Regions from separate parts of the Homo sapiens genome. Here region 1 is linked to region 2. Evidence: fine-mapped expression QTL. A gene starts in region 2. The other region holds a variant in brackets. All regions are shown on one strand. Distances are from middle to middle.

Evidence for each region. PIP is the estimated chance that this variant, and not a neighbour inherited with it, causes the effect. A credible set is the group of variants that fine-mapping cannot tell apart.
Region 1: its variant is the best candidate, but not a certain one, in a credible set for the expression of CDK8 in left ventricle (GTEx, PIP 0.60).

What each region holds. Positions count from the first base shown.
Region 1 is chr13:26,470,937-26,479,280 of GRCh38, forward strand. No RefSeq gene overlaps it. Among named protein-coding and RNA genes, the nearest start is that of WASF3, 83 kb to the right of the region's middle. RefSeq lists an enhancer at 5,276-5,570. The variant G/A (reference allele first, on the strand shown) is at 4,543.
Region 2 is chr13:26,250,282-26,258,625 of GRCh38, forward strand. It overlaps CDK8 (cyclin dependent kinase 8), which reads left to right and starts at 3,848. Exons shown (of 13, transcript NM_001260.3): 1 at 3,848-4,488. The coding sequence starts at 4,361. RefSeq lists a silencer at 3,853-4,452.

The DNA.
Region 1 (8,344 bases), 220 kb after region 2:
TTAAAATGGCTGTTTAATATTCTTTTACATAGATATAATACATTTTACCAACTATCTAGGAAGCTAGGATTCTTTTTGCGACCATAAGCAACATTGCGGTGAATAATCTCATGCATGTATGTTTGTGCGCATGCCCCTTGTTTCCTAGGAGCAAACTGCTGGAAGCGGAATTATATGAAGAGTATGTACCTTTTGAAGGCTCTTGATACATATTACCAAATTTTTCCACAAATGTACTGATCTAGGGTCCCTTTAATCTGAGAATCGGCATCATTTCCTTCACACCGAAGTTGGCACTGGTTACAATTCTTTTTATTTTGTTTTCCAACCCACTATATGAAAAAAATACATTCTTATTATTTTCTTCCATGTTTGATTACTAATTAGAGTTTTCATTTTTGGCATTTCTTGGCCATCTTTCTTTTCTTTTCTTTTTCTTTTTTCTTTTCCATTTTTTTGAGACAAGGTCTCACTCTGTTGCCCAGGCTGAAATGCAGTGGCACAATCATGGCTTACTGCAGCCTTGACCTCCTGGGATCAAGTGATCCTCCTGCCTCAGCCTCCCAAGTAGCTGGGACTACAGACATGTGCCATCATGCCTGGCTAATTTTTTACATTTGTAGAGTAAAAAAATTATTTAACTTTTTTTTTTTTTACTTTTTGTTGCCCGGCTGGTCTCAAACTCTTGGCTTCAAGTGATCCTCCCACCTTGGCCTCCCAAAGTGCTGGGATTCCAGGCATAAGTCGCTGTGTCCAGCCTGTATTTCTTATTTTATTAAATGCTTCTTTATTACTACGCTTAGCCGTTTTCCCATTAGGGTATTTCTCATTCTTCATTGATCTGTATGAGCATTCTATATCGTAAGCTCTGCAAACCTCCACCCAGGGAATACTCCCTTGCATGTGGGTGAGAAATCACTGTGTGGATGCTCCGGTGGAGGTGCTGCTGAAGTCAGGTTAACTCAACGGGGCCTTTAAGGAAGAGAGGTCACTCACCCAGTGGAGGGTGGGGCACAGGAGCTCCTGGTGTTTATTGTCCAAGCTGGTATTAACCAAGAGGATTGAGCTTCGGGGGACAGAAGACACGATGTTTGGCCTTGGCCTGATGCTGGGTCCCGATGATGTGAAGTGGGAAGTACTGACCTGAGTCGGCTACGCAGTGGCCCTGGGACCAGTAGCATCAGCACCACTCAGAAACCTGTTCAGCAATGCAGATTCTCAGGCCGCAGCACAGGAAACTTGTGAGCACACTTTTTTTTTATTATCATGGTAAAATATACATAACATGACTAGGCGCAGTGGCTCACGCCTGTAATCCCAGCACTTTGGGAGGCCGAGGCGGGCCGATCACCTGAGGTCAGGAGTTCGAGATCAGCCTGGCCAACATGGTGAAACCCTGTTTCTACTAAAAATACAAAATTAGCCGGGCATGGTGGCGCATTCCTATACTCAGCTACTTGGGAACCTGAGGCATGAGAATCGCTTCAACTTAGGAGGTGGAGGTGGCAGTGAGCCGAGATTGCACCAGCCTGGGCAATAAGAATGAAACTCTGTCTCAAAAAAAAAAAAAAAAAAAAATATATATATATATATATATATACAAGTATATATATACACACATATATTTTTATACGTATATATTTATATACACATGTATACATGCATATGTATATATTTATATACACATGTATACATGCATATGTATATATTTATATACACATGTATACATGCATATGTATATATTTATATACACATGTATACATGCATATGTATATATTTATATACACATGTATACATGCATATGTATATATTTATATACACATGTATACATGCATATGTATATATTTATGTACATATGTATACATGCATATGTATATATATATACATGTATATATGTATATCTCTGTGTATATATATACATGTATATATATCTCTGTGTATATATATACATGTATATATCTATGTGTATATATACATGTATATATATCTATGTGTATATATATACACATGTATATATATATCTATGTGTGTGTGTATATATATATATCTATGTGTGTGTATATATATATATCTTCCTATGTTACCCATTTTTAAGTGTTCAGTTTAGTGGCATTAAGTACATTCACACTGTTGTGCAACCATCACCACCATCATCAATCCACAGAATTCTTTTCGTCCTCCAGACTGAAATTCTGAATCCATGAAACAGCAATCCTCCACTCTCCCTAACCCCTCCAGCTCCTGACCACTGTCATTCTACTTTCTGTTGCTATGGATTTGCCTACTTAATTCCATCATCTAAGCGGAATTGAACAAAAGGTGTCTTTTGCATCTGGTTATTTCACTTAGCACAGTATCTTCAAGGTTAGTGTGTGTCAGAATTTCCTTCCCAGCTACTCAGGAGGCTAAGGTGGAGGATCGCCTGAGCCTTGGAAGTTGAGATTGCAGTGAGCCGTGATCTCACCACTGCACTCCAGCCTGGGTGACAAAGTAAGGCCCTGTCTCACACACATACACAAAAAAAAAGGCAGAAGAAGAAGAAGGAGGAGAAGGAGAAGGAGAAGAAGAAGAAGAAGAAGAAGAAGAAGAAGGAGGAGGAGGAGGAGGAGGAGGAGGAGGAGGAATTATTTCCTATAATATTCCATTGTATGCATATACCACATTTTGTCTTTTTGTTCATCTGTTCATGGCACACACTACAATTTGGCATGCAATGTGCACAGGATTTGTCAGGAATGTGGTTAAAATGCAAATTTTAATCAATTGTTCTGAGATGGAGTCTGAGACTCTACAGGAAACCTCTGGGCCACTTGCCCTGCAAGTCAGGCCAATTCTTCATCATTGCGTCAAATTCCACTCATAAAAATAAGCCACAGTACCAAGGGTTGATTTCAGTAAGCAAGTCCCACAAACTTTCTGGGAAGCTTTAAGAAAATGAAAATGCTCTCTTCTCACTTTTGCAGCTGCTGTACCCTCCTCCTACCTCTGCTGACTGCAGCAGGTCAGAGTGGGTCTGAGGGCCTCTCTGGCACGGCTGGCCTGCCCCACTGGCCCAGTTCCCGACTCCCTGAAGGCTGCTCACCTGCTTCCCCATGCCTCTGGCACTGTTTCTATCTGTCACATATATTCGACTTCTCTTACTCGAAATGAGCACCCTGAGGCTAAAAGCCTGTATTCTGCATTCATTCATTCAACAAATATTTATTGAGTGTGACTGTGTGTGAAGCACTGTTCTTTCTAGGCACAGGGGATACAGCAGAGAACAAAAGAGGCAAAAATCCCTGCCTTTGTGAGCTTTCGTGCTGGTGGAGACATCGATCATATGATAAATGAGCAAATATTAGCTAGAGATACATTTAAGCACGAAGAATAAAGCAGGGAGACAGCAAGGAATTTGGGTGATGCTGATACTTTACAGTGGTAAGCCAGGGCCGGCTTCACTGAGGAGGTGACAGTAGGGCGAAGACAAGAGGGAAGGGAGGCAGCCAGCTTTGCAGGAATCCGGAGGCTCACTCCAGCTGGAGAGAACGGCACAGGCAGAGGTCCTGAGACAGCGGGCTGCCTGGGCATGCAAGGCATAGCAAGGAGGCAGCGTGTGGCAGATGGAGTGAGAGAGACAGAGAAGGGAAGAGGAAGACAAAAAGGCAGCAGGGTGGGTCAAGAAGGATGCTTAGACCAGCAGTGTCCAGTGGAAAAAGAATGGGAGGTTGGGCGCGGTAGCTCACGCCGGTAATCCCAGCACTTTGGGAGGCTGAGGTGGGCAGACTGCCTGAGCTCAGGAGTTCGAGATCAGCCTGGGCAACATGGTGAAACCCCATCCTTACTAAAATACAAAAAAATTAGCTGGGTGTGGTGGTAGGCGCCTGAAGTCCAAGCTACTCAGGAGGCTGAGGCAGGAGAATGGCTTTAACCCAGGAGGCGGAGGTTGCAGTGAGCCAAAATCGCACCATTGTACTCCAGCCTGGGCAACAGAGCAAGACTCTGTGAAAAAAAAAAAAAAAAATAGAATGGGAGCCACATGAGTCATTTTCAATTTTCTAGTAGCTGTACTAAAAAAAAAACCCAAACAAGGAAACAATGTGTTTTACTTGACCCAATGTATCTACAATATTATTATTTCAACATGTAGTTGATAATAAAAACTAATGGATGAGCTTTTTTGCATTCTTCTTTCTTTTGTGTTAAGTCTTCAAAACCCAGTGTGTATTTGACACTCACAGCACATCTCGGTTTTGACCAGCCACATTTCAAATGCTCAATAACCATATGTGACCAGTGGCTCCGGGAGTGGGCAGCAGAGCCTAGACCGCATGAAGACCTTGGCTTTCCCTCTGAGGATGTTTTAGAATGTAGGTTTTATTATTATTCAGGTATGGCAAGGCCAACAGATCAGGAGCGGACTGCCATTGAAAAGTGAGCTGGGAGCGCTCCACACCGTAGGGGCCCCCTGGGGAAGCAAGGGGGGGAGGGAGTGGAGGGAAACATGGGCGGGAGCGTTGATTCTGATTTTCATGGGAAAGAACAGGCAAGGCAGGGTAAGCA[G/A]GTTTAGGATTGGCTGGTCTGAGTAATTTCTGCAGGCCCTGGGCATGGGACAGTCCCTACTTGTCTGGTACCTGGCCCTGGGGTGATTAGGGCAAGGGGCCAGGGGCCAGGAGCATAGTGGTGTAGCGGGGTGTGAGCTCTGGCTTAATTGCTTTGCATATGAAAGGTGCTTGCACTCAGTCATTTGCTCTCTCTAGGACCTGGCTAAATGGGGAGAGGCAGCCTCTCTAAGGTCAGCAGAGCCTCAAGAGCCTCAAGAGGCCAAAGCATCAGAAACCCATGGTTAATGGAGAGGGTTCAGGAGCTGCAGGGCTGGGCTTAGGAGGGCTGGGCTCAGGAGGGCTGGGCTCAGGAAGGCCGTGATCCCGCTGCTGTGTCTGCCGGGCTCTGGCTTCTCCTGGAAGAGAGGTGGGATGGGGCAAGGGGGCAAGGATGGGAACAAGGCTGTGGCCACACCCCAGGGAGGGGGCAGGGCTTGGGTGAGGCTGAGGCTTCGGGGGTGGAAGGAGGTGGTCCCTGCTAGACAGACTGGCAGACAAAGCAACTACGGCTGATTCCTCACGTAAGCACCTGGATGCTGAACTGAATGACAGCAGGCGCTGACTTTAGAGGAAGAGTGGGATAGCACATTTGCTGAAATACTTAGGTATCCAATAGAATTCCAGGGGCGTTTAGACAGTGAAGTAATGCTGAGAGAGACAGAGCTATTCTCCATTGGCTGCTCACCACATTGACCGGTCCTTCTGCCAGGCCTGGTTAGGTCACTGTATTTCCTGTGCAGGAGCACTGGGTCACCGCGTCCCTGCTGACCTCGGCAGGGTCAGAAGCGGGGTCCGCAGGGCGGCGGTCAGGGGCGGGGACTGTCCTCAGGGTAGGTTAGAACCTAGGGAGGGCAGCGGGCAGGCTGGGCTGAGCCCTCTTCCGTCACACAGGAAGCTGCAGGGCTTTCCTGCGGCATTCATGCTTTTTTATTCAAAGTCAGAGCTAGGGAGCTATTTGTCACTCTGCTTCCGGAGGCAACTTTATTCAGAAATCAACCGCTGCCTGGCTCCAGGGCCAGTGTCAGGAGCCAGCGGGGGTTTGTTCTGGCCAACAGCCCTCTCCTCCATCAGAGTCATCCCCACATCCAGGCGGGAGTTGCTAGAATTATCTGTTCCTGTTTCCTTCAGAGTCTGCACAGAATGCTTTGGATTCCCGAGATCTGGCTTCCTCTGTGTGTTGTCACTGACTCCAGCCCAGCTGCTCGCAGCACGGCCTGGGGAGACAATTCCCCTTTGCATTCAAAGACCAGGTAAAACAAGCCATCCATAGAGCTCACCAAGGCATGAAGTTAAACAGAAGTACGGAGTCAAGTAGAAACCACCACTTTCTGAGAATGCAGGTGGTACGGGATGGGGACACTTCACTGGCTGATCTGTTAGTGCCTGTGCCAGAAATCACAGGCTTCAGGGAGGGGCCCCTCAGAGAAGCCCCTTGGGAAGTTATACTCTCATTCCAAAGCTTTTCCCACACTCAGAGCACACTTGGAACTCCCTTCTCTTGGCAAAGGCCTTTAGAGTCCATTTAAGCTACATCGGAAACCCCATGTCATTTTTTAGAAAAAATTTTTTTATGTATAATCTACTAGATTTGACCCTGAATTTTTTTTTCTATTTTCTAAGCCCATTAAAACACACACACACACTCACACACACACTCACCCACACTCTCACACACTCACTCACACACACACACTCACACACTCACACACACACAGACACTCGACCCATGATGGCATGAAAGCAATGACTCCAAGGCCATTCATCCTGAAATGAGGGCATCATTCCCATTGGATATGTAATCTTTTATTGAAAGATTATTCCATACTTATATATAGAAAAGTGCACCAGCCGTAAGTGTACAGGTTGAAGAATATTTAGGAACTGAACACCCTGGTGCACACAGCACCCGGATGGAGACACAGAACAATAGTAATGCCTGGATGCCCTCACGGATTACCCTGGATCACTCACCTTCAAGTATGTGTGAAGTCTTTAGCCCACACCATCCAGAATAATCACCACTCTGACCAAGGTTGGGAAAGGTTGAGGAGCCTGGGGTGCACAGTGTAAGGAGGCCTCCCCTCTCAAGGTCAAGCACGTCTAGCCCCTTACATTTTGTTCTAGGTGCTTCACAGGCCTCACCCATAACTGACTTCTAGCAGCACAAAACAGTTCTGCCTGTTTTTGAGCTCCGTATAAATGGAATCTTCCAACATGCACTTTTTTGGGTCTGACATCTTTTGCTCAACATTATGGCTGAGATTCATGTTTTTGCTTGGAGTTGTAGTTTCTTCAGTCTTGTTGCTGTACAGCAGGTTCTCAAACTTTAGCCCGCATCAAAGTCACCTGCAGGGCTGGCTAAAACACAAGATTGCTGGCCCCACCCCCAGAGTTTCTGACCCAGGAGGTCTGAGATAAAATTCCAGAGTATGCTAACAGATTGTCCTGCGATACTGATGCCGCACTTTATTATTTATTTATTTATTTATTTATTTGAGATAGAGTCTCACTCTGTCGCCCAGGCTGGAGTGCAGCAGCACAATCTCAGCTCACTGCACGCTCCGCCTCCTGGGTTCACGCCATTCTCCTGCCTCAGCCTCCCAAGTAGCTGGGACTACAGGCACCCGCCACCATGCCCAGCTAATTTTTTTGTATTTTTAGTAGCGATGGGGTTTCACTATGTTAGCCAGGATGGTCTTGATCTCCTGACCTCGTGATCTGCCCGCCTCAGCCTCCCAAAGTGCTGGGATGACAGGAGTGAGCCACTGCGCCTGGCCCGCACTTTATTTTTTAAGACAGGGTCTCGCTCTGTTGCTCAGGTTGGAGTGTAGTGGTGCAATCATGATTCATTGCAGTCTTGACCTCCCAGACTCAAACAATCCTCCCACCTCAGCCTCCTGAGGAGCTGGGACTATCGGTGTGTACCACCACTCCAGGCTAATTTTTGTATTATTTGTAGAGACGGGGTTTCACCATGTTGCCTAGGCTGGCTGATGCCACACTTTTGAGAACCATAGATGAATAGTATTCCATTGTGAGAATATCCCACCTTTTACTGGCTTATTCAAATCTTGATGGACAAATAGGTTTCCAGGTTTGGACAATTACAAATCGTGCATCTCCAAACAATTTTGCACATGTCTTTTGGTGCACAGTGCATGCACTTAAGATAGGAGTGGAACTGCTAAGTCGTAGAATATGCATACAATCGGCTGTAGGTAAACATGCCAACAAGTTTTCCAAAGTGGTTGTATCAACTTACTAGGTTGGCGCAAAAGTAATTGCTCTTTTTGCCACTCATTTTAATACATTCCCATCAGCAATTTATGAGGCTTCCTATTGCTCCATATCCTTGCCAGCACTTATTGTCCATGATTTTTATTTAGACATCCTGGTGAGTGAGTACTAGTATCTCATAATGGCTTTAATCTTTAATTTGCTTTTCCCTCTTCATGGGTCTCCAGAGCTCATCACAGGTCCCCATTGAGCTGTGGACTTCAGCTTCATGTCACAAAAGTCCTCTGTGATGATGATGATGGCGGTGACCTGCTCCACAAAGCCCCCTGGGACCATAGCACCCGTCCCAAGATGACCAACTGGGTCAGAGGCAGCCACAGGCTTTCCTTCTCAGGCAAGGGTCCCTCCTTTCAAGGAAACATCTCTGTGCTCATCATTACGTTCCCCACCTGGATGTCCAAAATCCTGAATGCCACGGCTGGATTATACAGCAATGTCAATCTCTTAAAATTGGATTCAGGGCC
Region 2 (8,344 bases):
CAACCTTCAGGTCTCTGCTTAAGCATTGTCTCCTTAGAGAAACCTTGACCGTCTACCAATCTAAAGGAATTTCCTCCTGGTCTCACTTTCTATCACATTGTCCTGTTTTATTTCCTTTATAATACTTAGGGCATTCTTCCTCCTGTGAGCTCCCTACCCCCATCTCCCTCATGCCCCCTAATAAAGGAGCTCTCATATTCTTGCATGGTCCTGTCCCTGTGGCTACACTTAGTTGGCCTAGGACGGGCCTGACTCAGCCATACCAGAGCCCTTCTTGGGATTTTTAGAACCAGAATTGAGAAACAGTCAATTCTTCGCTAATGAAAGCCATTGTCTGACGTAAAATTCAGCAACTATTGGTGGTCATGTTTCCCGTTGTGTGGAGGAAATGAGTCCACAAAGGCAAATGATACCCACATGGTGAAGGGGAGAAGAGTAAGATATTTTTGAAAGTATTTTTTATATTCTGGTTATTTCTAAGGTCTAAATTATATTCTGGATGCTTGCAGAGTTAGTAAGGATACTTTTTGCATCTATAGTTTCTTTGAAAATTTTTTAAAAATCAGGCCAGAAAGACAGAGTGAAAAAAATGAAATATTAAAAAAAAGCTCTTGGATTGATTAATCTAACTTGTTCTTCCTTGTGTCGAACACTGTGCTCACATGTAGATGGTTAATATGTGCGGGATGAACGTGCCACCTGTAGAATGAGAGGTTACATGCTTTCCACTGAAAGCATGCCTTAATACTGAGTGAGAAAGTGGAAGTCAAAGTTGTAGAGACTGCAGTGATTAACTATGAGAAGAGCCACTTGGGCTTTTACATTAATATATCATGAAGCACTCAGTCCTTTTGCAGCTATAAAAAGCCCTTTTTAGAGGCAAGACTGAGGCAAGATACTAAATGTTTTACAATGACTGTCCTCTGACAGGTGGAGACCTTTATTATTATTAATGTCCATTTCAACATTTATTGAAATCAATCCAATGAAACACATTCTAATGAAATATAATTACGCAAACAATATGTGCTTGGAACTGTAGGGGATATATAGATGATTAAGGCAGGAACTCAGTCACTAAATTTATTAAGGGGCAGATTTTTTTAATCGCATAAAATAAATGATTAAAATACAAGGTAGCTATAATGAGTTACAAATAAAGTGCAATGGTGCCAGGGCTGGGGTAGAGGTTCATGATAAAGAAAGGTCATATCTAGTTGCAAGAACTGGGAAAGACTTCATGACCAAATTAAGCACTTGGGGGATGGGTAGGACTGTAAAGGTCAGAGATGGTATGAGGAAGCATCTTAGCCCTTAAGAACCTTAAGAACACACAAAAGGAGACACTTAAAACTAAATATTAGATGCTGCTGTTCCTAGCATTAGCCATGCTCTCCTATAAGGGGCCCTTAGTGGCTATCTCTTTCTCAGCTCCCCATCCTGATACCATTTTACAGGGTCAGCTTACCTCCTACCACCATATTCCTCCAACCTAGTGTCTAGGCCTCTAACTCTCACCCTGGCTTCAAAGAGAAAAGCAGATCTTGCTCTTCCCTAGTCCAAGGTTAGCTTCTTTTCCTGCCCCCAGGAAAAGACTGACAGTCAGGACTGACATTCAGGATACTCAGTTGACAGTGAGGACACTCAATTCCTTCAGGGAGAGTTCACCTTCACCCAGAGTGAAGCCAGCCAAAACAGTGTATAAAAGTACATTTTTAAAAGTCTGAGGCCAGGTATGTGGCTCATGCCTGTAATCCCAGCACTTTGGGAGGTTGAGACAGGAGGATCACTTGAACCCAGGAGTTAAAGACCAGCCTGGGCAACAGAGCGAGACTCCGTCTCTCAAAAAAAAAAAAAAAAAAAAAACTTAGCTGGGTGTAGTGGCACATGCCTGTAGTCCCAGCTACTCAGGAGGCTGGGGAGGAGAATTGTTTGAGCCCAGGAGTTCAAGGTTGTAGTAAGCTGTGATCGCATCACTGCACTCCAGCCTGGGTGACATAGCCAGACCCTGTCTCAAAATAAAAACACAAAAAGACAAACAAAAAAGGTCTGAGACCTTCAGTGTTCCAGAATAGTGTGTATAATTGGTACAGGAGGTGGGGAAGGGGGACCCGATACAGTGTAGGGGCAAGCTGAGTCCCATGCCTCTTCACAACTTTTCCTCCAGTGTGGTAGTTTGATTTCTCAAGATCCATGAGTAAATATGTGCACAAAAGACACATCCCTCAAAAAATACAAAATACATTGTCTAAGGAAGAATCTTTTAAATCCATATTCAGAAAATGATGTAATTCTTTAAGGATGCAAATGAGCAGTTCTGCTAGAGAGTTACCCAATTTTCATCACTGAATGGAAACAAATAATATGCCATTAATGAAAGCCTACATTTGTTTTGTGCTTTGCACTTTGCAAAGAAAAAATTCTAGGCTCCAAGAACACATTAGTAAATGACAATGCAGGATTCAAACCCAGTATAGTAAAATACTCAATACTTATATAGTATGCTAGGTAAAAACAATTTAATTTTACACAGTGGTGAAGTCACTAATTTTCTCCAAGGAAAATTATATAAGAGAAAGCCCTTTGGAGGCTTTTTCACAAGATGATATCATCATCATCATCATTGGTATATGGATCTTTTTGAGATAAACATGTTTATTCATTCATTAATTTAACAAGTGTTTACTGTGCATCATTATCAAGGCATGACACTAGGTTTTACAGAAGATGCAAATATGACTTCCTATAACAACTTAGGATCTAGCAAGGTAGAGGAAATAAAAGATGAAAGGAATTTGATAAATATCACAGGAAAGGTGGGAAAAAAAGTGTTAAAAAGTTCACATTAAAACTGCAAAGTTCATATTCCCTTTGGGAAGTGGGGAGCTTTAGTGGAAATGGTAACAATTGGAAAACCAAAAATTAAAAATAGACAAGGGGGGTAAGATAAAATGATAGATTAGTATCAAGATACCAGGACTCCTGAAGCAGGACATATTGCTACCTTAAGATTATTAACAAACTAGTTCCCATGGATTTAGATCCTTTCTGTAATCATAGCTAGAAACTGGTGTTCTTATAGGTAGTATCGCAGAAGGCTGTACTGTACTCAATACTTCCTGTATATGGATAGGAAAGGTTTGGATGGTCATCTGTCACAAGAGTAACAATGTTTAGGAGTAGCTTGGACACTGGTCATTGATTCACTTTTATTGGTGCTTGTAATGTCAGTATGTTGACATCATTGTGCAGCCCTTATCAGATTGTGAACACCAAGAGTACCCCAACTGCTGGCCCGCGAGCTGTTTACAAATATCATACCGGCTTTTATCGATGATAGTGGCCTTTAAAATCTGGAGTTCAGAGTGGCACAAAATGTGTTTCTAATGCAAACGACTCTCCTTCCCACGTGCACCTCTTTGATCAAGTTTGTGGCTGAAATCAGACTCTAGTTAGATCGCTGTAAAAATAAAAATAAATTTTCCCCAAATGATTGAAACGAATTTCACCCTAGACTACGAGTCCCATCATGCAACGCTCCCATATTCCCACCGTGTGGGGCGGAGTCGTAGAAGGGGCGGCAGCGGCGGCGGCCTGTGCATTCTGGGTATTGTAGTCTGGGGCCCGGCCACCGCTGGGGCTGGTTCCACGTGGTGCATTTGGCGGCAGCTTTGGGCAGTGGCTCCCCTGCTCCCTCCACACGGTCCTCAGGGTGCCAGCGCCAGCAGGGGCGGCCAGCCACCGCGGGAGCGGGCTAGAGTGTGGCCCGGAGGCAGCCCGAGGCTTCGCGACGTTTTTGCGACAGCCGCGGCCGTGTTCCGCGAGTGCCCTCCCTCCTCCTCTCTTTGAGGAGGTACCGGCTGTTGTGCGGCTCTGCCCTTCTGTTTGAGTGTATGGGAGAGTGAGTGAGTGAGTGAGTGTGAGCGTGTGTGTGAGAGCGTGAGGCGTGAGTGCGCGTGTGAGAGGACGAGAGCCCGCCTGGCCGCCCCGCCGCTCCCGCCGCAGCAGGAGCAGAACGCGCGGCCGGAGAGAGCGGCGGAGCCGGCGCCCAGGGAGCCCGCGGGGACAAGGGCAGAGACACCGCTCCCCACCCCCAGCCCTCGTCCCTCGGCTCTCCTTCGCCGGGGGATCCTCCCCGTTCCTCCACCCCCGGCCGGCCTCTGCCCCGCCGTCCCCCTGGATGTCCCTGGCGCTTTCGCGGGGCCTCCTCCTGCTCTTGCCGCATCAGTCGGGCTGGTGCTGCGGCCGGCGGGCGTAGAGCGGGCGGGTTCCCGGGGGCTGCGGCTGCCCGTGCTTCCCCGGTCCCCACCCCTGCCCCCCGGCCCCCCGACCCAGCTCTCCGGCCTCAGAGGCTGTGACAATGGACTATGACTTTAAAGTGAAGCTGAGCAGCGAGCGGGAGCGGGTCGAGGACCTGTTTGAATACGAGGGCTGCAAAGTTGGCCGAGGCACTTATGGTCACGTCTACAAAGCCAAGAGGAAAGATGGGTGAGTGTGTGTGTCTGGGCCGGTGTCCGCGCTGGGCGGCGCTCCCGCAGGCCGAGGCAGGTAGCCCGGAGGGAGAGCGGGCCGCCGGGGTGCCGGGCTCTGACTTCCTCGACGCCGGCCTCTGGCTCCGCCAGCCAGGTTTGGGGAGGAAGTGGTGTACGAGGGATCCAAACCCACGAGAAATCCTGCGTGCCGCGTCTGTGTTCTGCTCTGGTGGTAAGAGGCAAGATGAGCCTCTGCACCGTGGGCTGTATACTTTTCAAGGATTTCAAAGCTGATTCATGAAAAAATTCGTTCTAAAACGCCGGGTTAAATGTTTTTTGTTTTTTTTTTTCCTTGGTCGATTTATTATGGTAACCTTCTGGGGATTTCCTCACCCGCCTCTGGAGTGTCATCCATCGGTCTAGAAGGAAGGCTGTGATCCTTTCCCCCACCAGTTTGTGATCGATTTTTTATCAAATTTGTATTTTATTTGAGGAAAGGAAGGCAGCGAGTGAATGTGGTTCTGGAGAGAGTTCCCCATAGTGATCATCTGCAACATAAATGTTGCAATTGCTATTTAGATATTATTAGCTGTGAATTTTTACATAGAACAATGGGGGTTTGGTGCAGGGTGGGTGGTGGGGAAGAAGGCAAGTGACATAGGGACTATCTCGTTCAGGCGGTTTCCCCCAAATTTAGCGGCTGGCAGTGAACTTTAAATAATCCCTTTGCTTTAAATATTCTTCCCTAGTAACAACTTAATTAAACCTATGACTGGTAATGCTTCCAATTTAGTTTCTTAACAGGCAAGTGAATTGTTCATTTTTTCTCTTTGTCAGTAGATGAATGTCTTGTAATATTGACAAAAGAGAAGGCAATTCTTAGTTGGGGGGAAAATATATTTTATTAACTCCATGTTTTCTTGTAAAATGGATGTTGTCTCTGTTGCCTTTGACAGAATAGAAAATTATTGAAAAGTCAAAGCTTATTATATAATCCTTGGATTTTATTAGAAACGAAGTAGCTTTACTTGAGCATCCCAGTTTAGTCACCTGCTGTATGATGTTTAATCACTTAAAATTTCCAATTAGGTAGGAGAGTATGTTCAGACTACATTAGCACGAAAAAAAAATTCATAAAGCTGAAGTTCCCTACTGTGGGGTAGGGGGGCGCATATTTACAAATACTTTAGTATTCTGGATGTTGGAAAGGAAAGTGTATATTTATTGGACATTTTTCTTAGATTTACTGAAATGTCTTTCTAAAAGTATTTACAATGGACTCTACGAGGAAGATAGGAGTTCTAATTAATTTAGAATGTGTATTTTAGTGCTTTTATGCAACAGTAAAGTGGAACAGATCGGCAGAAGGTAGGGATTTGGATTTGAAAACTTGATATTCTGGGCGCCGCACGTATTTAAAAGTACTTTTTAGCGGAATGGATAGTCTGGTGACACTGGAGAAATCAGCGTCTGGAGATATTGCTGACTCTGTTGTTGTCTAATTAGACTTATTGTTGAAGTTTTACTCTGTAATGACATATATTTTTAAAATTATGTTTGTTAACTCACCATACAATATTTCTCAAAAGCTTTAAACCATCTCCCCTTCCCCCAGTATTATGTAATTTTGGGCATATTCATAAAATCCCCAATCCCATGAGATTAGACATTACAGTACATTTGACCAAACTGACATGTTATATAAAATTCTAGCGCCTTTGCATTATTTTTAATCTGTGTGAGAGAAGCCGGTTCTGTTTTCATAAATTACCAATTTAAGCTAATAAAATATGCATATTTGTTTTAACGTTGTACATTTTATTAGAAAACTAATACTGTGTATTGGCAGGGGGTACTTAAGCACATTTTATATCTCTATGGTCAGGTTTTAATTTAGGCCGTTAAGAATAATTTGAAAGAATAATTTCAATATCTTTGAATTTAAAGATAGTTGAAGGTATAATGTATGGACATTCTTAGTCATCTGTGACAGCTGAAAAGTAACATTGCATTTTGGAAAAAAGAACTTATTATTTGTAATCCTTGGAGTTTGTTTTCCATCAGTCTTTAATGATTCTCTTTATGTGATGAACTTCTATTTTTAATGGATCAAATGTCAAGAGAGTTTTAAAATTACTATCTTTTAGAGATAGTTTTAGAGAGTTTTAAAATTACAGGGATTTTTTTCGGTTTGACTTCTCTTTGTAACCTCACTCTGGTAAAGTATCGCATAGTATTTATGAGGTTCTTTTGATCTTATGTCAGTGAAATGTAATTTAATGCATTTTAGTCCTGGTAAAATAAAATTTGTGGCTGTTTAATCTTTCATAATAAGATGATGATCAAATAATTTGTTTCTAGTATTGATTTACTTTCAAATTACATTATATATTCTGCAGCTGAGATTTGTTCTCTAGGAACTCAGACAGTAACACCTTTAAGGAGAACCTGAGATTTTCTATAAAAGGAAGTAACGCAAATAAGCTTGGTTTAGACATATTTGACTATTGAAATGAATGTATGTAAACGTTGTATCCTTTCAGTTGCCCAGTGAGCATAGAACATGAATAATTGGTAAAATAATTTAGACCAGAGAAGTTAGCTGCTTAAATTATTAAGTTTTAGGAAATAAAATAGCTTCAAAGATTCATTTCTTTGACTTACTTGAGGCATGATTGCATAGTAGGGAAAAGGGACCTTTTATAACTTTGTTAATTTCACATTATAATAGAGTTTAAAGAAATGCACAATAAATCTTGGGATTAATTTGTTCTCACTCGTGTCGCCGTAAATGAGATAGTGTCCTTTGTGTCTGAACACTTAAAGAGTACTCAGTGGGAAGCAGGGGGGTTCATTTTCTTTCTGAGTTGATTGTATCTCCTCTTTGCAGAGTTTAGGCAACCAAACTAATTTTGTTTTAAAGAGTAAGAGAGCGTTAGAAGACAGAAAACAATTTGTGTTTTTAAATTCTAGACTTCAATATTTGCACTGAATGTTTGGATAATTTAAAATATCAATTTGGGATAAGAGGTTTTTCTTCAAAAAAGAAAAACAAAAGGCATTTTCTTAGCAGGGTTTTTAATCTGTTATAATCTATGTTCCAAAGAATAGATAATTATGAGTGAGGAATGAGTGTGTGTTTGTGTGTGTGTGTGTGTGTGTGTGTGTGAGAGAGAGAGAGATACTGCCAACTTTCTTTGGGGCACATTTGTTGAGAGCCCAGAGATTAGTAAGTAGGCAGTGATAATGGCAATAATAGCTAAATTACTGAGTAATTAAGTTTCAGGTCCTGGGCAAAGCACTTTACATTCATCATCTAGTTAGTCCTCACAAGAAGTATATCAAGTCAATTCTGTTATTTTTCAGTTTTCCAGTTGAGGAAACTGAGGCTTAGAAAGGTTAAGCAAATTTACCCATGAGTACACAGCTAATTAAATGTCAGCTAAGATTAGAGGATTAGGCGCAGGTTTTTCACTCCAGAGCCCATGCTCTTAACCATTATGCTTCCTATAATTAATATATTGAATAAGTAAAAAAATAGTTATGGAGTTTGATTTCTAGTGGGTTATTCAAAAACATAAATACCTTGTAGAACTATTAATATTTGCTTCAATAAACTGGTGTACTTTCTGGGTATATTGCTGAAGCACCCTTTTTTTCAAGTGCTATAAAACTGTTTATGTAGATATATGGGTGTGTCTGTACGTATATACACAAACATACTTGTGTATCTAGAGGGGTGTGTGTGTGTGTGTGTGTGTAGGACTAAACTCTAATGAAAGCCATGTGGAAGCACTTCATCTAGTGGAAAGAACTCTAGATGAGCGATCCTGGAAACCTGAATTTGAATTCAGACTGTGCTTCTGATAGCA